Linked DNA regions of Homo sapiens. The protein of the gene in region 2 interacts with the protein of the main gene of each other region in a biochemical or structural test. Each region holds a gene or a part of one and is shown on either strand. Other genes may lie near its edges.

Evidence for each region.
Region 1: the proteins of TJP1 (region 2) and DGKH interact in a test that uses a peptide from one of them, tested with the Homo sapiens proteins (one large-scale study listed by IntAct).
Region 3: the proteins of TJP1 (region 2) and CLDN8 form a complex in vitro, tested with the Homo sapiens proteins (2 studies listed by BioGRID and IntAct, with this or other methods).
Region 4: the proteins of TJP1 (region 2) and CACYBP interact in a test that uses a peptide from one of them, tested with the Homo sapiens proteins (one large-scale study listed by IntAct).

Annotation. Positions count from the first base shown.
Region 1 is NC_000013.11:42,240,648-42,243,396, forward strand, and holds the end of DGKH (diacylglycerol kinase eta), read left to right. Parts: 3' UTR 1-2,249; downstream 2,250-2,749.
Region 2 is NC_000015.10:29,815,969-29,819,468, forward strand, and holds part of TJP1 (tight junction protein 1), read right to left. Parts: intron 1-3,500. UniProt on the Homo sapiens protein: TJP1, TJP2, and TJP3 are closely related scaffolding proteins that link tight junction (TJ) transmembrane proteins such as claudins, junctional adhesion molecules, and occludin to the actin cytoskeleton.
Region 3 is NC_000021.9:30,213,506-30,217,491, reverse strand, and holds CLDN8 (claudin-8), read left to right. Parts: upstream 1-1,394; 5' UTR 1,395-1,566; coding exon 1,567-2,244; 3' UTR 2,245-3,486; downstream 3,487-3,986.
Region 4 is NC_000001.11:175,002,947-175,006,446, forward strand, and holds part of CACYBP (calcyclin-binding protein), read left to right. Parts: intron 1-1,667; coding exon 1,668-1,887; intron 1,888-3,500. UniProt on the Homo sapiens protein: May be involved in calcium-dependent ubiquitination and subsequent proteasomal degradation of target proteins. Probably serves as a molecular bridge in ubiquitin E3 complexes. Participates in the ubiquitin-mediated degradation of beta-catenin (CTNNB1).

The DNA of each region.
Region 1 (2,749 bases), on a different chromosome or scaffold from region 2:
TAAACATAAGAAGGCTTGTGACTCTTATCACCCTCTATAGAATATAAAGACTAAAAATAAAAACTATTACCTCTGGGCCTGTTTTTCTTTGGGATTAGATAAAGCCTTTCTACCATATCACCAAATACTCATAAAGGCTAACACAGAAAGCTTTTCCAAGTTAATAATTTCTAAAATTAAATATCAGGGCCAGGTGTGGTGGCTGACACCTGTAATCCCAGCACTTTGGGAGGCCGAAGTGGGTGGATTACCTGAGGTCAGGAGCTCGAGACAAGTCAACATGGTGAAACCTCATCTCTGCTAAAAATACAAAAACTAGCCAGGCATGGTGATGCACACCTGTAATCCCAGCTACTCGGGAGGCTGAGGCAGGAGAATTGCTTGAACCCAGGAGGCGGAGGTTGCAGTGAGCTGAGATTGCACCACTGCACTCCAGCCTGGGCGACAGAGTGAGACTCTGTCTCAAAAAAAAGAAAAAAAATCAAAATAATTGTAATTAACTGAAATGCCCTGTTCCTTCATTCACTTGATAGACTTTTCTACCTGCTCTATACTTGGCACTCAATTAGATTCTGGGGATACAGATAAAATAAGACAAAGCTCCCATCTGGTAGAGTCCAAGTTTGTTTTCACAGTTATTTTTCCACAGTCTGTTTAAGGTATTAGGAGGACTTTTATAAACCGAGTGTTTTTCAGGTTACTTCAGAGAGGAGTCTCCTTCCACCCAAAAAAACTAACCAAATTATTTTATCATAAAGAGGTAATCCCATTTTTATGTCCACAATTTTTACATTTTTGTATCAGCCACCAATAATTTTGACTGTTTTGTCAAGTACATATTTCATCAATCCTATTTCCACAGCCGTACATGTGATCCCAGTGACTGATAGATCTGTAGAATGTGAACTCACATTTAAAGTTTATTTTGGGAAGGCATATATGCCTTTTGATGACACACACACCAAAATATATAAGAGCTGTGCATGGTAAACCCACAGTAGAAGGGAAAAAGTAATGCTTTCTGGTATACTTCAGAGGCTCCATTTGAAGATGTGCGTTGATGTTTCCTTGATTATTTTGAATGAGGAGTAGGCGGTAATATTTAACAGGTAGCATACGTATCTAAGCATATAGTAAATATTACTAGTACTTGTGTGCCATGAGGCACTAATACATAGGTGAAACAAAAATATTTTTAGTTCTAAAAAATTCTCTAGATATTTATGGATGGTTAGGCAATAGGGTTCCTTCATGAGAAGGAAAAAACTGTATCTTTATTGTCAGTAAGTGTGGAAAAAAACCCGACTTGTATGTGTATTCACAGTTTGATAGGCATATTTTGAAGTCATTGTTTTCCATCAGTATTAAGTATCATCCATTTCTATGTTCTCTAGCAAAAGAAAATTCTTAGTGTGATACAGCTTTACTCTTTGTTTGACTTTGTACAAGGTCCACAAAAGGAGGAGGCTCAAAAGATTGGACACTTTACCCTGACATTCAGCACATTCATTTTATCTTTCGATAAAGATAACCAGAAATCATTTGCCTCTTGTTTATTATCATGTTGAAAACACAACAGTATAGTTCCTTTTGTCCCTTACATTGGAAAAGGTATTTTAAATTTAGCCTTGCCGTATTATTTATAGTTAGGAATTTACTACATTTTGGTAGTCTGTTTTGAAACTAAGCACTTGTGTCTGAAAGATGCAGATAATATCTATCTATTTATTACACAGTGGGCTCTGTTTGCTGCAGAAAAGAGTGAAACTTTTAACTGCTTAGCACACTTGCCAGTGAAATATACCTGACAGAGCAGAGGTTATAACTTTGGCTCTAATTACTTTTAGTAATGGTAAGACAACGTGAGTTTTGTTTGTTTACATGCTGTTTACAATGGCATAATTTTAAAAATATATACAATTGAGATATTTATTGCCTACTATTTTAAAGATGTTTTATGTGTTTTCACCTTTGGAATATATTGTTACATTTCCTTGTACAGATAATTTTGGTGGCTTTGTTAATGTAGCTAGTAATTTTTATGACTACTAAGTGACCAGTTTTCGGTGCCTTTTATTGTGGGATGCATGATTATGTATTTATTGTACGGAAGTCACTGACGTGTGTATTTTTGTACTTTGCTGAAAGTAATGGTTGATCCTGATGTACATGATGATGAAAGACATCTTTCCCAAAGGGCACTGCCTTGAGATCATCCTTCTCAAATAAAAAGAATGCATTTGAAGAAAGTGTGAAGTCTACGTTGTTTCTGGTGGGAAATCTTTTTTAAAATTAAACTTTTAATTTTGAGACAATTGTAGATTCACATGCAGTTGTAAAAAATAATGCAGAGAGAGCTCGTGTACCCTTTACCCATTTCCCCTCCAAAGGTAACATCTTGCAAAGCTGTAGTACAGTATCACAACCAGGACATTGAGATGCATAAGGTCACAATGCTGAACAGTTCTATCACCACAAGGACCCGTAATACAGATCCCTCATGTTTCCCTTTTATAGGCATACCTACTTCCCTCTTGCCCTCACACACTTCTTAACCCCGGGCAACCACTTCTATACTTTTATCATTTCAAGAATATTACATAAATGGAATCATACAGTATGCGATTTTTTTTCACTTTAGAATAATTCCCTGGAGATTCATCTAAATTGTGTGTATTGATAGTTCATTTCTTCTTATTGCTGAGTAGTCTCGCATCTGGTGAAGGAATTCTTGATTGTAAGAACATAA
Region 2 (3,500 bases):
TCGAAGCCACAGATTGGTTTCCACCTCATTATTTATTGGTGTCTTTCCTTTTTTTTTTTTGAGACAGACTCTCACTCTGTTGCCCAGGCAGGAGTGCAGTGGTGCTATCTCGACTCACTGCAACCTTGGCTCAACTGCAAACTCTGCTTCCTGGGTTCAAATGATTCTCCTGCCTCAGCCTCCCAAGTAGCTGGGATTTTAGGCATGTGCTACCACACCCGGCTAATTTTTGTATTTTTAGTAGAGACGGGGTTTCGGCCGTGTTGGTTGTGCTGGTCTTGAAGTCCCGCCCTCAGGTGATATGCCCGCCTCAGCCTCCCAAAGTGCAGGGATTACATGCTTGAGTCTGGCAAATTGGTGTCTTTCCTAATAATATAATGTAATTTGTGCCAATATATAACCTGGGGGGGAAGAACACCACAATTTGAAACATAACTATCTTATGAAGCTGTCCTGAAACAAATGTAAGAGTTGTAAAATGTAGTTAGGATTATCAGCCAACTATATAAATTAAAGCTTTAACCATGATGGTCTAAAATGCCAAACACACACAAAAATTATTGCTACAGTGAGGATCATTAAAAGTTGGCAGCCAAACTTCAGTGACTTCTCACAAACTACAGTGAGTTTTTCACTTTTAAAACAGTATGAAGCAAGTATGCATTGATCAGTAACTATCATAATTAAAACACTGCATCACTCACTCAAGAAACAATCCCTATATGTAATGACTGACTCTTGTCATTAATTTTTGTTCATTAGCTTGGCCATTTTCTGCAGCTCTTAAGGTTTCAAAAACGTTAAGATATCAAGAAAAGCCCACTGTATACACAAATTAACTCAAGATGGATTAAAGACTTCAATGTAAAACCCAAAACCATAAAAACCCTAAAAGAAAACCTAGGCAATACCATTCAGGACATAGGCATGGGCAAAGACTTCATGATGAAAACACCAAAAGCAATTGCAACAAAAGCTAAAATTGACAAATGGGATCTAATTAAACTAAAGAGCTTCTGCACAGCAAAAGAAACTATCAGAGTGAACAGGCAACCTACAGAATGGGAGAAAAACTTTTGCCATCTACTGATCTGACAAAGGTCTAATATCCAGAATCCACATGGAAGTGAAACTAATTTACAAGAAAACAAATATCCGTATCAAAAACTGGGCAAAGAATATGAACAGACACTTCTCAAAAGAAGACATTTATGCTGCCAAAAAAAAGGAGGTATTTATGCGGCCAACAAACATATGAAAAAATGCTCATCATCACCGATCATTAGAGAAATGCAAATCAAAACCACAATGAGATACCATCTTACACCCGTCAGAATGGTGATTATTAGAAAGTCAGGAAACAACAGATGCTGCCGAGGCTGTGGAGAAATAGGAACGCTTTTACACTGTTGGTGGGAATGTAAATTAGTTCAACCATTGTGGAAGATAGTATGGCAATTCCTCAAGGACCTAGAACCAGAAATACCATTTGACCCAGTAATCCCATTACTGGGTATATACTCAAAGGAATATAAATCATTCTCCTATAAAGACACATGCACACATATGTTTACTGCAGCACTATTTACAATAGCAAAGACATGGAACCAACCCAAATGCCCACCAATGACAGATTGGATAAAGAAAATGTGGTACATATATACACCATGGTATACTATGCAGCCATAAAAAAGAATGAGTTCATGTCCTTTGCAGGGACACGGACGAAGCTGGAAGCTATCATCCTCAGCAAACTAACACCAGAACAGAAAACCAAACACCACATGTTCTCACTCATAAGTGGGAGTTGAACAATGAGAACACATGGACACAGGGAGGGGAACATCACACACCAGGACCTGGGGCCTGTTACCCGGGTTGGTGGTGGGGGGAAAGGGAGGGAAAGCATTTAGGAAAAATACCTAATGCATGTGGGGCTTAAAACTTAGATGATGGGTTCATAGGTGCAGCAAACCACCATGGCACACGTATACCTATGTAACAAATGTGCACATTCTGCACATGGATCCCAGAACTTAATTAAAAAAAAAAAAGCCCACTGTGCTCCACTTGATACAATAAATCAATTCCTGGGTATCATGTAAATCAGTGTAACAGTAAAAAATGACATAAATCATTTTCATACTTACATTATAATTTCAGATAGCCACAGCGGGCAATACTACTATTCCCGAGACTTAACAAAAACATTTAAGTATTCAGCAAAATCTAATAAGCATATACAATAGCACAATCTTAAATTAAATTTTATTGCTTCCTCCAAAGGAAAACAGCTTGAAAACACAGAAGCCACTGAAACTTCCTTCAGCCACTTTTCTGTGATTCAACCAATGAAATCGTTTCTTAACAATGATTCATACCACTTTCTTACACATTTAAACAATTCTTTGGTGACGCAGAGAACCACCCTAATTCTTGTTTTTCAACTTTCTAATAATCTTAAATCAAATACACCAGTAAACAAAATTCTGACTGCGAACGCAGACGTTTATCACACATATAAAAAACGTTTTTTTCCTTTATTTATTTATTTGAGACAGCGTCTCGCTCTGTCGCCCAGGATGGAGTGCAGTGGTGCGATCTTGGCTCAATGCAACCTCTGACTCCCGGGTTCAAGCGTTTCTCCTGCCTCAGCCTTCCCATTAGGGGGGATTACAGGTGCTCGCCACCAGGCCCGGCTATTTTTTTTTTTTTTTTTTTGTATTTTTAGTAGAGACGGGGTTTCACCATGTTGGTCAGGCTGGTCTTGAACTCCTGACGTCGTGATCCGCCCCTCCTGGCCTCACAAAGTGCTGGGATTACACCGCGCCCGGCCACGTTTTTTCCTTCATTACTTTTTGTTTTTGAGACGGAAGCTCACTTTGTCGCCCAGGCTGTAGTGCAGTGGCCCCGATCTCAGCTCAATGCAACCTCCGCCTTCCAGGTTCAAGCAATTCTCCTTCCTTAGCTTCCCAAGTAGCTGGGATTATAGGCACGCGCCACCATGCCCGGCTAATTTTTGTATTTTTAGTAGAGACGGGGTTTCACCATGTTGGCCAGGCTGGCCTCGAACTCCTGACCTCAAGTGACCCACCCGCCTTTATTACTTCTTTAGTATCATGCACGGAGGATTCTTTTCAATCTAGGTACATACATATTTTTAAGTAGTATTCTACATTTTCTTCTATTTTAGAATTTTTATTGCTCTTTGTCATTTAGATTTCCTTTGATTTTTTTTAGCCTATGAGGCAGAAAACATTTTTAAAAAATGGATAACCAATAGTCCTAGCACCATACATTGAACAAGCCACTTTCTCCAATAGTCTACAATATTATTTTTTACCACATATTCGTAGTTTTCCACCTTGCTGGCTAAATGAACTTAAAAGTTATCGTATCTCTGTGTTTCAATTTCTTCACCAAAAAGTAGAGATAATAGTTCACTTCATAGGGTTACTGTGAGAATTAAATAAATTGAGCACTTAGAACAATACCTGACA
Region 3 (3,986 bases), on a different chromosome or scaffold from region 2:
ACAAAATTATAACAACTCATACTACTGTGCGTCTGTCCTGCCTCTTTTTTAGAAGACAGTCTACTTGATCCTCCTTTTGCCCTTTCTACCATATAGTTTTTGTTTTAATAATATCCACAAATGACTCAGATTTTTTGAACCATGAAACTCTCAAAGTTTAATCAGTGAGCAGAAACGATTTTCTCCCATATTTGGATTTAAGGTAGTCCAATGAAACAGAGAGAAAGTAAAACTGTAAAGAGAAAATCATTTTTTATGATGTTAAGAAGAAAAGAAAATGAAGTGGCAGCTTAAACTTTGGAAAGATCAGACAGAGAGCTTAAGGTGATCTCCAGAAGAAAATTGCTAGTCGAATTTTCTCAGATAAACATTTATGCTTAGTATAGCACTACTGTTAGAGCATCATTATTTTGAGAAGAAAGTTCAAATTGTCTTGCGTTTAGGGGTTTCTATGTCCTACTGCAGACATAATATTAAAAGGTAGGAAAACATATTTGGTTAATACCTAATATAATACAGTTTGGTAAATATAGTTCCCTTGTCTTGTAAATATCTTATTTTGAAATATCAGCCATTTGTATAGGCCCAAGGGTCTTGTGTCATCTTCAGAATTCTAGTTCCTTCAGCCCAGGAATTCAAAGCAGCAAGAATAACACCACAAAATAAGCTCATAAGCTTATTTTAATGCTATAGTGCTGGATACATAAGATAATCATCTGGTGATTTTTATTTTGGCAAAAAATGTTTTTATAAGTGAAGATTATCAGAAAAGTGTCAATGAGTATTTTTTCTGGCTTAAAGAACTCCAATATGTTTTCAGTGCCAAGGAGAAGGACAGCCTTGTGTATTTAATTACTTTAGCTTATTTTGTCCTCTGGCATGATCTGTTCCCTGATTTCACCACAGTAGAGCTTGCTTTGAAGTTGTAGAAAAATTAAATCAATCACTTGGATCACATGTGTCCCAAAGAATGTGGCTTCCCAGGTAAAAGCAATCTTTCAATCCCCTACTCTCGTTTCACTTTGGCATTTCAACAGCGTTGCAGAATTCTTCGGCAGATAATTTATTTTATCCCTTGGTCCCAGCAGCTCTTATTAAGAGTTTCAGAATTGCCTGTACAAGGTGCACCTTTCACATTACAAGGGATCGGCTCATTTCTTGATGCTTATGCAACCACTTATAACTATGCCTACAGGTAAACATACTGCTGTCTTCTTGGAAGACCGAGAAGTATAAAGAATGTTTATGTGCAGGTCTAGCTGTTCCAAGTACCCAAGTGTTGGTTTAGACACACCTGGATTACCATCCACCTTTTATTGGCTGAGAAAGTTGCCACACCTGATTTGTAAGTTTACCTGTTGCAGCCAATAGCAGGGCCATCTCAGCCAGCCAGCACTGGATACTATCTGGCCAGAAGTAGCAAAGCAGCTCTTATTTGAAAAACCACTGGGTTCCGAGTTCATTACTACAGGAAAAACTGTTCTCTTCTGTGGCACAGAGAACCCTGCTTCAAAGCAGAAGTAGCAGTTCCGGAGTCCAGCTGGCTAAAACTCATCCCAGAGGATAATGGCAACCCATGCCTTAGAAATCGCTGGGCTGTTTCTTGGTGGTGTTGGAATGGTGGGCACAGTGGCTGTCACTGTCATGCCTCAGTGGAGAGTGTCGGCCTTCATTGAAAACAACATCGTGGTTTTTGAAAACTTCTGGGAAGGACTGTGGATGAATTGCGTGAGGCAGGCTAACATCAGGATGCAGTGCAAAATCTATGATTCCCTGCTGGCTCTTTCTCCGGACCTACAGGCAGCCAGAGGACTGATGTGTGCTGCTTCCGTGATGTCCTTCTTGGCTTTCATGATGGCCATCCTTGGCATGAAATGCACCAGGTGCACGGGGGACAATGAGAAGGTGAAGGCTCACATTCTGCTGACGGCTGGAATCATCTTCATCATCACGGGCATGGTGGTGCTCATCCCTGTGAGCTGGGTTGCCAATGCCATCATCAGAGATTTCTATAACTCAATAGTGAATGTTGCCCAAAAACGTGAGCTTGGAGAAGCTCTCTACTTAGGATGGACCACGGCACTGGTGCTGATTGTTGGAGGAGCTCTGTTCTGCTGCGTTTTTTGTTGCAACGAAAAGAGCAGTAGCTACAGATACTCGATACCTTCCCATCGCACAACCCAAAAAAGTTATCACACCGGAAAGAAGTCACCGAGCGTCTACTCCAGAAGTCAGTATGTGTAGTTGTGTATGTTTTTTTAACTTTACTATAAAGCCATGCAAATGACAAAAATCTATATTACTTTCTCAAAATGGACCCCAAAGAAACTTTGATTTACTGTTCTTAACTGCCTAATCTTAATTACAGGAACTGTGCATCAGCTATTTATGATTCTATAAGCTATTTCAGCAGAATGAGATATTAAACCCAATGCTTTGATTGTTCTAGAAAGTATAGTAATTTGTTTTCTAAGGTGGTTCAAGCATCTACTCTTTTTATCATTTACTTCAAAATGACATTGCTAAAGACTGCATTATTTTACTACTGTAATTTCTCCACGACATAGCATTATGTACATAGATGAGTGTAACATTTATATCTCACATAGAGACATGCTTATATGGTTTTATTTAAAATGAAATGCCAGTCCATTACACTGAATAAATAGAACTCAACTATTGCTTTTCAGGGAAATCATGGATAGGGTTGAAGAAGGTTACTATTAATTGTTTAAAAACAGCTTAGGGATTAATGTCCTCCATTTATAATGAAGATTAAAATGAAGGCTTTAATCAGCATTGTAAAGGAAATTGAATGGCTTTCTGATATGCTGTTTTTTAGCCTAGGAGTTAGAAATCCTAACTTCTTTATCCTCTTCTCCCAGAGGCTTTTTTTTTCTTGTGTATTAAATTAACATTTTTAAAAAGCAGATATTTTGTCAAGGGGCTTTGCATTCAAACTGCTTTTCCAGGGCTATACTCAGAAGAAAGATAAAAGTGTGATCTAAGAAAAAGTGATGGTTTTAGGAAAGTGAAAATATTTTTGTTTTTGTATTTGAAGAAGAATGATGCATTTTGACAAGAAATCATATATGTATGGATATATTTTAATAAGTATTTGAGTACAGACTTTGAGGTTTCATCAATATAAATAAAAGAGCAGAAAAATATGTCTTGGTTTTCATTTGCTTACCAAAAAAACAACAACAAAAAAAGTTGTCCTTTGAGAACTTCACCTGCTCCTATGTGGGTACCTGAGTCAAAATTGTCATTTTTGTTCTGTGAAAAATAAATTTCCTTCTTGTACCATTTCTGTTTAGTTTTACTAAAATCTGTAAATACTGTATTTTTCTGTTTATTCCAAATTTGATGAAACTGACAATCCAATTTGAAAGTTTGTGTCGACGTCTGTCTAGCTTAAATGAATGTGTTCTATTTGCTTTATACATTTATATTAATAAATTGTACATTTTTCTAATTATTTGACATTCTTTCACAAGTCTCCTTTTGTTTCTGTTTTATTAACTTGTAGAAGAATGTTGAAAAGCCTGATAATTTTTTATTCTCCAAATTGAGAAAGAATGTCAAGATTTGCCTTGTAAAGACAAACAGTGCATTAATTTTTGAAAATATAAAGTACTCTATGTTATTTATGTTATTTAACAACAATATACCTTATAATCATTGGATCCCTATACCAATATTCAATGCAGATAATATATTTATAATTTAAGATAGTACTATAAATTCAAGCAAATCTATATGTTATAAATATTATGTATATAACAGCCAGGTTTGAAAAATTTTCTGTAGCTAAATATATATTTCTACTTCTGAGAAATAATAAATAATATTGTCTAATGTTCTGGGGGCATGTATTACATGCTAGGACCTCTACTGCTTATATGAATTGTTATTAAATCTTTTATGAGACTGATAATGTTATTAGTTCAATTCAAAGATGAGGCTATCTCAGAACAATTCAT
Region 4 (3,500 bases), on a different chromosome or scaffold from region 2:
AGGAGTTGTAGAATCAGCGTTTTTTTGAAACCATTACAATAAAAATATTACTTTGAACTGAAACATTTTGGTTCTATGCTCAAAAGATGAGTTTGCAAGATTTTTTGTCATAGTAATATGAGCTGTTCTTGGAAGGGTCGAGAGTGTGGACAAGAGGGTTGGGCAGAGTTGATTTTTTTTTTTTTTTGGGAGACCGAGTTTTGCTCTTGTTGCCCGGGCTGGAGTGCAATGGCGCGATCTCGGGTCACTGCAACCTTTGCCTCCCGGGTTCAAGCGATTCTTCTGCCTCAGCTTCCCGAGTAGCTGGGATTACAGGCACGTGCCACCACACCCGGCAAATTTTTGAATTTTAAGTAGAGACGGGCTTTCGCCGTGTTGGTCATGTTGGTCTCGAACCCCTAACCTCAAGTGATCCACCCGCTTTGGCCTCCCAAAGTACTGGGATTACAGGTGTGAGCCACTGCACCTGGCCAGAGTTGAACTTTTTATACCATGTCATCTGTTATAGATAGGCAAAACTAGGGCATCTGAGTTAAATGAGATAACAAAAGACTTGTAGTAAAAGAAAAGAATTAGTTCTGTTATTGCATTTTATAAGACTATTAAGAAACAGGCTTTCAAACTCTGTTGTGCGTCTGATATTCTGAGTTATAAAGCACTAAAAGACTTTTTTAAATTGAGCTTTTGATATCAAGCTGTGACACAAGATTTTTTTGGTCAAGTTGGTAGTGTCAAGCCAGAGTGTAAAGTTATTGTAAGAAAAGTGAAACAGCTGTTTGGAAAGATCTTGTGTATTTGCAGTATGTCAGAGGGTAATTGGGGGAAAAAAAACTTAGGCTCAATAATTTTCTAACATTGTCTTTAACTCTTGAATTTCATAAAATGTTGCCTCTATCTCTAGAAAGTAGAAAGTAGTAGACTTTAATAGATGATGGATTGGCAAGAGAAGAAAATGAGAACGTGGTGGCTTTTTCAAAAGATAATTTCCAAGAGTATGTTGCATTTTCGGTCTTTTGTCACCTTCTGTGCAACCAACTCCTACACTTCTGAGTGTAAGACTGACCCAGCTTCAGAGCAAGACTTTTCCTCAAAAGCAGAAATTTTTTTTTTTATCTTTTGTCTTAAAAATTAAGACTTTTTTTATGTGAGGTATTTGAGGTGGGAAGATAATGAAGACCAATCAGTGACAGAAAGTGGAGCATTCATTACCTCAGTTAAGTTTGCTATAAAAGCATTTTACCATGGTCACTGCATGTTCTCTCATCTCTTAAATATTTTAAAAGTGTCTAACATCTAATGACACTCGGATTAGATGTTACAAGGAAATCTATGAATCCTTTGTCAAAAAAAAGTTCTTTGTTTTACTTTTTAGGTCGCAGACGTTTCTTGTAAATATTTTAAAACATAAACTGGAAAATTTAGGTTTGAAGACCTATTTATTGTTTGTTCAAGATTGTTCAAAGTTTTCCTTTTGAAAAAAAGGAAGCTTGAGTTAATTACAGTTAATAAGCCAGATGGAAGAATTGAAGTTGCAACTCAATCCTAGAAAATTTAGATGAACTTCTTAATTCTTAGTGCTTATTTCAGTAAGTTGAAATGAGTGATACGCACAATATCAAGCCATTTCCTTATTTATCATAGCTAACTTATTTTTTGTCTTAACACAGCTACAGAAAGATCTAGAAGAGGTAAAGGTGTTGCTGGAAAAGGCTACTAGGAAAAGAGTACGTGATGCCCTTACAGCTGAAAAATCCAAGATTGAGACAGAAATCAAGAACAAGATGCAACAGAAATCACAGAAGAAAGCAGAACTTCTTGATAATGAAAAACCAGCTGCTGTGGTTGCTCCCATTACAACGGGCTATACGGTGAAAATCAGTAATTATGGTATGACTTGCTTCCCTATAGCCAGTTCTGCCTCCGAGCAACCTATTCCTCATAGTGGTCTAACAAATTCATCCCCAATGAGTTTTGAGTCTGTGTTTTTGGTGGTTTGGAGCAAGACCCATCAGTTTTTATTTAATAAAACTTTTTTAAGATATAAATAGGAAAGGATGCGTTCTAGAAGCTGTTAACAAGAGTAAGGTGATTCACTACAAAATGTAACAACAAGGAAGGAACTTATTCTGAAATTGTTCAGTATAAGACACAGCTTTGGTGGTGGTGGTGGTGGTGGTGGTTTTTAATCATGTTTTATGTTTCACTCTGCCAACCACCACAATTAACTGAGGAGAGGAATCCAGTTAAATTCAGGAAATATTTTTGAGCACCTAATGTGTATCACTATTGTGCTTTGACTTACGGATACACAACAGTGACTAAGACCCAGTCCTTGCTCATGTTGTGGTTGGGACATTGACGTATAACTCGTAGTATAACAATGTAGTAATACTGTTTTCCTTCAATGGTGTATACAGTTTTTTGTTTTGGCGGCAGCGCAACTTGAATATGAATGATGAGCTCTCATTGGAGCAAGGACAGTCTTGTTTTTCTTTGTGCTAATAATGTCTAGCACATAATAGGTAACATAGCTGAAGAAATAATTCTGGAGGTGAGGAACAGGGAGAATTAGAGAGATTTGAGTGTGAAGGGTGAGTCGTACATTCAGCAAGTCAAAAAGGAGGGGAACAGCATGAGCAGAGAATGTGAATAGAGAGTTGGAAGGCATGATCTATTTTGAATATTGTTAATAGTGAAAAGCATGTGTATGTCGTGCTTAAGAGATGTACTATATAGTAATATAGGAAATTGCACCGTGTACTCAGTTGAGTATAGGAAACTGGTCTGAAGGTGTTGAGGATTATGGTATTTTAACCAGGAACATAGATTTGTGTTGAGGGAGAAACTTGTCAATCCGGAGGATGGACTGACTGAATGGGAAGAAACTATTAATAAATGAAGTTCTCTGGACCCCACTAGGGCATTTTTTCATCAACACTGTTTCTTTTTAATTTTCGAGGGTACATAGTAGGTGTATATATTTATGGGGTACATGAGATGTTTGATATAGGCATGCAATGTGAAAAACGTCATGGAGGATGGGGCATGTTTCTATTCTATAGGACTAAGTGAGCAATAGTCAGGGATATGTATGTATATATTCTTGATAAACAGAAGATGCTTTTTTGTGAAGTTTTTTATTTTCTACAAATGTGATGGTATTTTGTGAAGTATTTATATATATGTCTTTTATGTTGACAGAGTTCTTCTAGGTCAGAGACGTGCTGGTAGTTTGATAATACATACTGAAATGGCATTTAACAGATACCAGTAGGTTTGTCAGATTTGGATGAAGAATTGGAGTCTTTTACATTCTACTTTGCCCTGGAAAGGAATTAAGAGAGCTAGGATTCCATTTGTTTGACTACTTACAGAAGTAGAAATGGTTATGGAATTAGTATTGATACTTAGCCATCCAGCTTAGTGGAGAACTACCAATATTTAGATGTCGGACAAAATTGTTTCCATAAAAGCTGTAAATGAACTAATCTTAAAGAATG